Homo sapiens: one gene and its partner. The protein of the gene in region 2 interacts with the protein of the main gene of each other region in a pairwise test. Each region holds a gene or a part of one and is shown on either strand. Other genes may lie near its edges.

What was found.
Region 1: the proteins of PRPS1 (region 2) and ASIC4 interact in binary tests that used the Homo sapiens proteins (3 or more experiments, as listed by UniProt).

Annotation. Positions count from the first base shown.
Region 1 is NC_000002.12:219,517,348-219,521,094, reverse strand, and holds part of ASIC4 (acid-sensing ion channel 4), read right to left. Parts: intron 1-3,747. UniProt on the Homo sapiens protein: Does not exhibit measurable stand-alone pH-gated sodium channel activity but may form pH-gated heterotrimeric sodium channels. Its activity could also depend on alternative gating mechanisms.
Region 2 is NC_000023.11:107,631,428-107,635,174, forward strand, and holds part of PRPS1 (ribose-phosphate pyrophosphokinase 1), read left to right. Parts: intron 1-3,747. UniProt on the Homo sapiens protein: Catalyzes the synthesis of phosphoribosylpyrophosphate (PRPP) that is essential for nucleotide synthesis.

The DNA.
Region 1 (3,747 bases), on a different chromosome or scaffold from region 2:
CCCTCCAGGAGGGTCTGAGCCGCAGCTGGTGTGGGGTGGAAGGTGGGGAGGGTGGGTGCACCTGGTTCTGCAATCTGAGGGGTTGGCAGCCCTCAGTATTTTTTAAATCAGTTACTGTTCTATTAAAATAATCACGATTTGGAGCTGCTTTTGACAGACTGGAAGACCCAGCCATGCTGGGCTCCTCACACAGGGCAACAGTTAGCTAGGGCTGAGAAGCAGCTGCGTCCTTCAAGACTAAGTGGTCTTCAGTTCTCCTCAGACCCCACCCTTCCCTACTGTATCCCCCCACCCCAACCTGACCTGCCTGGCTCCTGAGGGCAGGATCAGCCCTGAACCAGATGTTGAACTAAATGTGCTTAAGGCTCATGCCTCAGGAGAAGCTGGGACCACAGGGAACAGAGGGCTGGACAGGCAGGGGGAGTCAGAGGCAAGCCTGTGCGGTAGATAAGAGGCTTGAACCCACCTCAGTGGGCACCCTCTCCCTTCCACAGCCAACGGGGCAAGGGGCAGCCCTTGGAACCTCCAACCCAGTGGCAAAGATGTAGAGTTGGGATGGAGTGTGGAGTAGCTCCTCCCAGGGCCAAGTGTAGGGGGTGGAGGGCAGAGACTGTCAGTAGTGGCCTGACCACACACTGGGAAGAGAAGGAGCTAAGGAGGTCGCTGGGACAGAAGGAGTGGGTGCTAAGGAGCCCGAAACTGGGTCCTGGGACAGCCAGAGAGAGAGAGGGCTTGCATGCTTTCTGTGCCTCAGAGCTGTCCTGGCTGGCGGCTGGGTGGGGCAGGGAGAGGAGAGAGGAGGGCAGGGGAGGGACTGCCCAGCTGGAAGAGGCCTTGTCTAATTGTGCCTGATTAGTAGAGAGGAAGAGAACAGGGCGAGTGATTAATAGTCATGGCAGTCACCAGCATGTGGAGAAGGAGGGTCGGGAGGGGGAGGGAGACCGGAGAGCCCATAGGGGATGGAGATAGTGAGGCGCCCACAGGGCCCCAGGCTCCTGGCCCCCCGGGGCTGCCTGGACCCTTGAGGACCCTGAGGAGTGGGGCTGGCTCCTACCCATGCCTCCTCAGGGTTTCTTCGCCTCCCCCAGCCTCAATTTTCCAGACAGTAGCGTGGAAAAGACCAAGGTCATGTCCTGCACCTGGGAAGAAAGCACCTTTGCTCACGTGGTGTCTCCAGACACCCCACTGCCCCCAGCCCCCAGCCCCCAGACACAGGCCCTATCCTCAGCTCCACCTGAGATCACAGCCCACAGAGTAGATGGCCCGACTTCCAGTCACAGCCCGCAGCTACCCTTTATATCCTGTGGTCCCAGTTGTAATCCCAGCCCTGCCCTACCCAGACAATCTCATTCCTAGGGCCATCCAGAGCTGCGCTGTCCAACACGGCAGCCTATAGCCACGTATGGCTATTTGAATGTAAAATTCATTTTCTCTGTCGCACTAATCGCATTTCAAGTGCTCAACAGCCACATGTGGCTAGTGACTACCAAGTTGGACAAGCACAGGTGCAGAGCGTGTCCATCACCACAGAATGTTCTATTGGCAGCACTGATCTAGACAGTGTGTGCGCACTCCTGCACCTATGCACACGTGCATGCATATTTTGGAGGGCTGGATAGAATGGAAATGCTAGTACAGGGCAGAGGAGGGTGTGGGCCAGAGGGTCAAAAGCGGGGCGATGACTAGGTAATGGAGAGTAATGAAGATGCCAGCACATGGGTCGGAAACCAGTAGGTGGTGCTGACAACAGTCAGGTTAAAGATAGCCAGCAGTTGGGGTGGCGGCATTTATAACAGCTGACGCTTACACAGAGTATACGATGTGTGTGCCAGGTAGTGTGCTAAGCTCTTTAGGAGCATCTCTTTAATCCTCACAACAACCCCCAATTTTTAGGTTCTAATATCCTATTTAAAGAATACACCCAGCACTTTGGGAGGCCAAGGCGGGCGGATCACGAGGTCAGGAGATCGAGACCATCCTGGCTAACACAGTGAAACCCCATCTGTACTAAAATTACAAAAAATTAGCCGGGCGAGGTGGCGGGCACCTGTAGTCCCAGCTACTCAGGAGGCTGAGGCAAGAGAATGGCATGAACCCCGGGGGGCGGAGCCTGTAGTGAGCCGAGATCGCGCCGCTGCACTCCAGCCTGGGCAACAACGAGACTCTGTCTCAAAAAAACAAACAAAAAAAAGAATACACAAACCGATGCTCACAGAAGCTTTTTGGCTTCCCCACGGCCACACAGCTTAATGCGTAGAGCCGAGGTTCGAATCCTGGTGGTCCCCAGGTGAGAGGAGATGCTGAATTTTAGAGCCACCCTTGCATTTTACAGCTCAAGAAATGAAGCCTAGGGAGAAAGAGTGATTTCTGCCTTTTAGTAAGAGGGCAGGCTGAGAGCAGGCCGCAGTGGGGAAGGTAGAACTGGGGCTTGGAGGAAGGGGGTGTGGGTAGCAGATGGCGGCAGGAATCAGGGAGGAAGGGAGAGCTGTCTACAAGGCTGGGGGTGGGGGACATACAGGTGGTAGAATGGGCGGGAGTGAGATGGTATGAGACTGAGTGAAGAGGGGAGGGAGAAGAGAGGAGCAGAGGTAAACTAGCTGGAGCTAGCCACCATGCAGAGCAAACATACGGGGCCCACCTCCCAGGGCCCTCTCCTCTTTCCTCTCTTCCCTCTTCTCCAAACTGCCCAGCCTGCCTCATCCCCTAGGCCCTCCCAGCTCTCCTCCACCCAGAATGGCCTCTCCTTCTCTGAACTCGACCTCTTACTACCCATGCACCTCGTCTGGCAATTGATCCTGGCACCTTATGACACCACTTGCATGGCTGATTAACTCTTGCATGGTTGCTTAAACTTCTGAGTGTCCCTGTCCCCACTCTACGAGACTATAGGCTGCTTGAGGACAGGGACTGGGGACAGGGCTTCCCATCTTTGCTGTCCTCCACAGCTCTGAGCAGGGAGCCCAACACATAGTAGGCACCCAGAACTCCATGTTGATTGATTGACTGACTGATTGGGAGTGCATGAAGGGATATTAGGGAGCGTGGGGGGAGAGCGATTGCAGTGGTAACAGAAGCAAGAGCAGCAGCAGAGGGGACTGGGGGAGGGCACATTACCCGGAGTAAAAATAGGCTGGAAAATGTGACATTTATTAACTTGGATTCCAGAGGAAAGGTCACAGCAGAGTGGGGAGTGGGAAGGAGGAAACAGGGAAAGCAACAGAAAACACATAACAGCCCCTTGGTGAAGCCTGTCCCTGTCTCTGACCATCTCACCACCCATACCCCGGCAGGCTCCCCACCAACCAGCTCACATACCCATCTCCCCACCATAGACCCCAAATCCCCATCATTGACTCCAGGTCCTCACCACAGAGCTGATTATGGACCTCACGTCCTTTTTGGAGACCCCATATCTTCATCTCCATGCCCATTCTCCAGTCTTTCCCCTGTAATACACCCCATCTTCCCCACTACCATGGATCATGGGCCCCCAGCCCAATCTGTAATTCCAGACCCTGGTGAATCTGCAGCAGACTCAGCCCTTGAATGCCAGACCCAAGACAGAGTTACACTCAGCAGACGGGGGATGCAGTATGTGCAGAAGAGTAGGAGGCTGGGCTGGAGACAGGGGAAATGGAAATCCCAAAGGGGAATTCCTGTCCCCCAATGCTAGCTATGCCCTCTACCCCCACTGTCCTGCACCAGGGCCAGAACCTCAGCCCACGGACTTCTACCATCCTCCTTTCT
Region 2 (3,747 bases):
TATGGTTATGCCATAATTTTATATAACCAAATTCTTATTGGACATTTCCAGTTTTTGATCTAATGCTTTTATATGAAAATCCATGAACATAAATCTTTGACCATTTCTGATTATTTCCTTAGAATAAATCCCTAGGAAGGTAATTATTAAGTTAAAGGGTAGATACCATTTTTCAGGCTTTTGATACCTGTTGCCAAATTATTCCCCAGAAAAGTTGAACAAATCTGTCTCATCAGCAGTAATACAATATTAATAATATTTATTTATGTATTTATTTTTTGAGACGGAGTTTCACTCTTACTGCCCAGGAGTGCAGTGGTGCGATCTCAGCTCACTGCAACCTCCGCCACCCAGGTTCAAGCAGTTCTCCTGCCTCAGCCTCCCGAGTAGCTGGGATTACAGGCACGTGCCACCACGCCCAGCTAATATTTTGTATTTTTAGTAGAGACAGGGTTTCACCATGTTGGCCAGGCTGGTTTCAAACTCCTGACCTCAGGTGATCCCCCACACCTTGGCCTCCCAAAGTGCTGGGATTATAGGTGTGAGCTACCGTGCCCGGCTATAATATTTAATGTATAGTGAATGCCTAAGATGTGCTAGTTTCCATGCTAAGCATTTAGTATACATTGTGTTTAATCCCCTCAAAACTGCTATGAGGAATAACTCTTACTATCCCTATTTTACAGAGAAGAGAACTACAGTAAGATGCAGAGTAACTTGCCCAGCTCTGGGTATTATTGTTCCTTTAAATTTTTGCTGACAAGATCTCTCACCTGGCTTTAAAAACTTAGATATTCTAAAATTTTGACTCTATTCTCTTCAATATTTGTAAATAACTTTGGTTTATTTGGTTATTCTGTACTAGCTGAGAGGAGGAAGACTTGAACTTTGGTTGCCTAGGGTTTTCCTGAGAACTGTATCTTCTGGTTGTGGTTAGTTAATCCCATGTATTTTGCACATGCCAATATCTCCATAATCTAAATTCTTCAGATTTTCTTAAGACTACTATCCACCTTTTAGATTCACTTTTGGTGTTTCCTGACATTCCATTTCAATTGGATACACTTATGCCTGACCTTAAAGGAAAGGGAAAAGAGAAGCTAGTTTTTTCACTCATTGGATAGACATAGCCAGTCTTCTGGCCTCACCAAAACAGCTGAGAGAATGATTGGCCCAAAGCCATTTGGAGAACACTCCATTAACTAGAGGGAGAGAACAAGGAGTATTACTCTCTAAATTGCTGAATTAGGTTTTTCCACTTAATAGATTATGTTAGGAGCAAACAGGTTTTAGGCACAAATATTCTTCTCGATCACTGCCATAACTTAGAAGAAGCCATAAGAATAAGGTTAAGATTTTTAGAGGACTTGTTGAACCAAGCTGTATAATCAGAGTGCAATTCACGGACTTTTTAAGACTTTGTCAAACAAAGTCTGTATGTTATAGTACTACTATAGGGAAAGATTGGTTTTAATAAGTGAAATTAGAATTATACACATTAAAACAAGGCAGTATCACCTAGTTTACTTGCACCACCTTATTTTATTTATGTATTTGCTTTCTAAGTTTCTCTACTTTTATTTCATTTTTGTAAGATCTTTTCAAAAGCCCCACATTTTTTAAACAGTTAAATAACCTTTTCAAGTTATTAGATACATGCCTTATAACAAACACCTTCTATGCTGAAGGTAGCTTTTAATTTTAAAAAGTTTGAGCCGGGTGCGGTGGCTCACGTCTGTAATCCCAGCACTTTGGGAGGCCGAGGCGGGTGGATCACGAGGTCAGGAGATCGAGACCATCCTGGCTAACACGGTGAAACCCTGTCTCTACTAAAAATACAAAAAATTAGCTGGGCATGGTGGCAGACGCCTGTAGTCCCAGCTACTCGGGAGGCTGAGACAGGAGAATGGTGTGAACCCAGGAGGCGGAGCTTGCAGTGAGCTGAGATCCTGCCACTGCACTCCAGCCTGGGCAACAGAGCGAGACTCCATCTCAAAAAAAAAAAAAAAAAAAAGTTTGGCTTTGAGAAATAGCTGAGCTGTTGATTGATTATTAAGTGATATAATAACAAAAATGGTACTAGCGACTGTATTGGGTGGTAAGCTGATAAGTGATTTTTATTTATTTTTATTTTTTGTTTGATAAGTGATTTATAAAAAATTATTATTCAAGCCTTATGTGATGTTAGAATATGTATATTTTAAAAATAATCACCTTGGCTGGGTGCGGTGGCTCACACCTGTAATTCCAGCACTTTGGGAGGCCAAGGCAGGCGGATCACCTGAGGTCAGGAGTTTGAGACCAGCCTGGCCAATGTGGCAAAACCCCATCTCTACTAAAAATACAAAAATTAGCCAGGCGTGGTGGCACACACCTGTAGTCCCAGCTACTTGGGTGGCTGAGGCAGGAGAATCACTTGAACCTGGGAGGCAGAGGTTGCAGTGAGCAGAGATCACACCATTGCACTCCAGCCTGGGTGACAGAGTGAGATTCCGTCTCAAAAAAAATAAATACAATTTAAAAAATAAAATAATCAACTCTATTAAAGCTATATATTTATCAGATGCCCTTTGATGTTTTAATTAGCAGTGATAATTTAATTTTTAAATAGTATCTCACCTGCTTTCAAGAAAGGATTTGAAGTATGTTTGATAGTCACTAGTACAAACCGTTTGTTAAGGTAGGTATCAGAAGCCTTATAGAACCATGGACTACAGTAATTGTGGCAACTATTTGGCATAAAACAATTTCTAAAGTTTAGTGTTACTTTTTATTTTATTTATGTATTTATTTATTTATTTTTTTGAGATGGAGTCTAGCTCTGTCTCCCAGGCTGGAGTGCAGTGGCGCGATCTCGGTTCACTGCAAGCTCTGTCTCTCGGGTTCACGCCATTCTCCTGCCTCAGCCTCCCGAGTAGCTGGGACTATAAGCGCCCACCACCACGCCCAGCTAATGGCTAATTTTTTTTTTTTTTTTGTATTTTTAGTAGAGACGGGGTTTCACCATGTTAGCCAGGATGGTCTCGATCTCCTGACCTCAGGTGATCTGCCCACCTCGGCCTCCTAAAGTGCTGGGATTACAGGCGTGAGCCACCGCCCCAGCCTAGTGTTACATTTTTTTAACTGTATCCCTTGGCTTCCTGACAGCCAGAGGGATAAAGGCATATGCAATCGATTATGTGGTTTTTATTTTCATAAAGTTATTTAGAAACTTCCAGGCAAAAAATCCTAAGAATTTTATGGGTGAGACCTCTAAATAGTGATATCGAGTAACATCATGGACAATATAACAATTTTGTGGGTATTTTTTATATTGACTGATAGTTGAGGCATTTGTAAAGGGAGATAAGCCACTGTGGTCTAAGAATGTTGTTTTCTGGTCTTACTTGATAATGATAAAGTTTTTTGTTTTTTTTTTTTTTGAGACAGAGTCTCGCTCTCTCGCTCTGTCTCCCAGGCTGGAGTGCAATGACTTGATCTCGGTTCACTGCAAGCTCTGCCTCCCAGGTTCACGCCATTCCCCTGCCTCAGCCTCCCGAGTAGCTGGGACTACAGGCGCCCGCCACCACACCTGGCTAATTTTTTTGTATTTTTTAGTAGAGACGGGGTTTCACCGTGTTAGCCAGGATGGTCTCGATCACCTGACCTCGTGATCCGCCCGCCTCGGCCTCCCAAAGTGCTGGGATTACAGGCGTGAGCCACCGTGCCCAGCGATAATGATAAAGTTTTAAAAACATAGCAGAATAG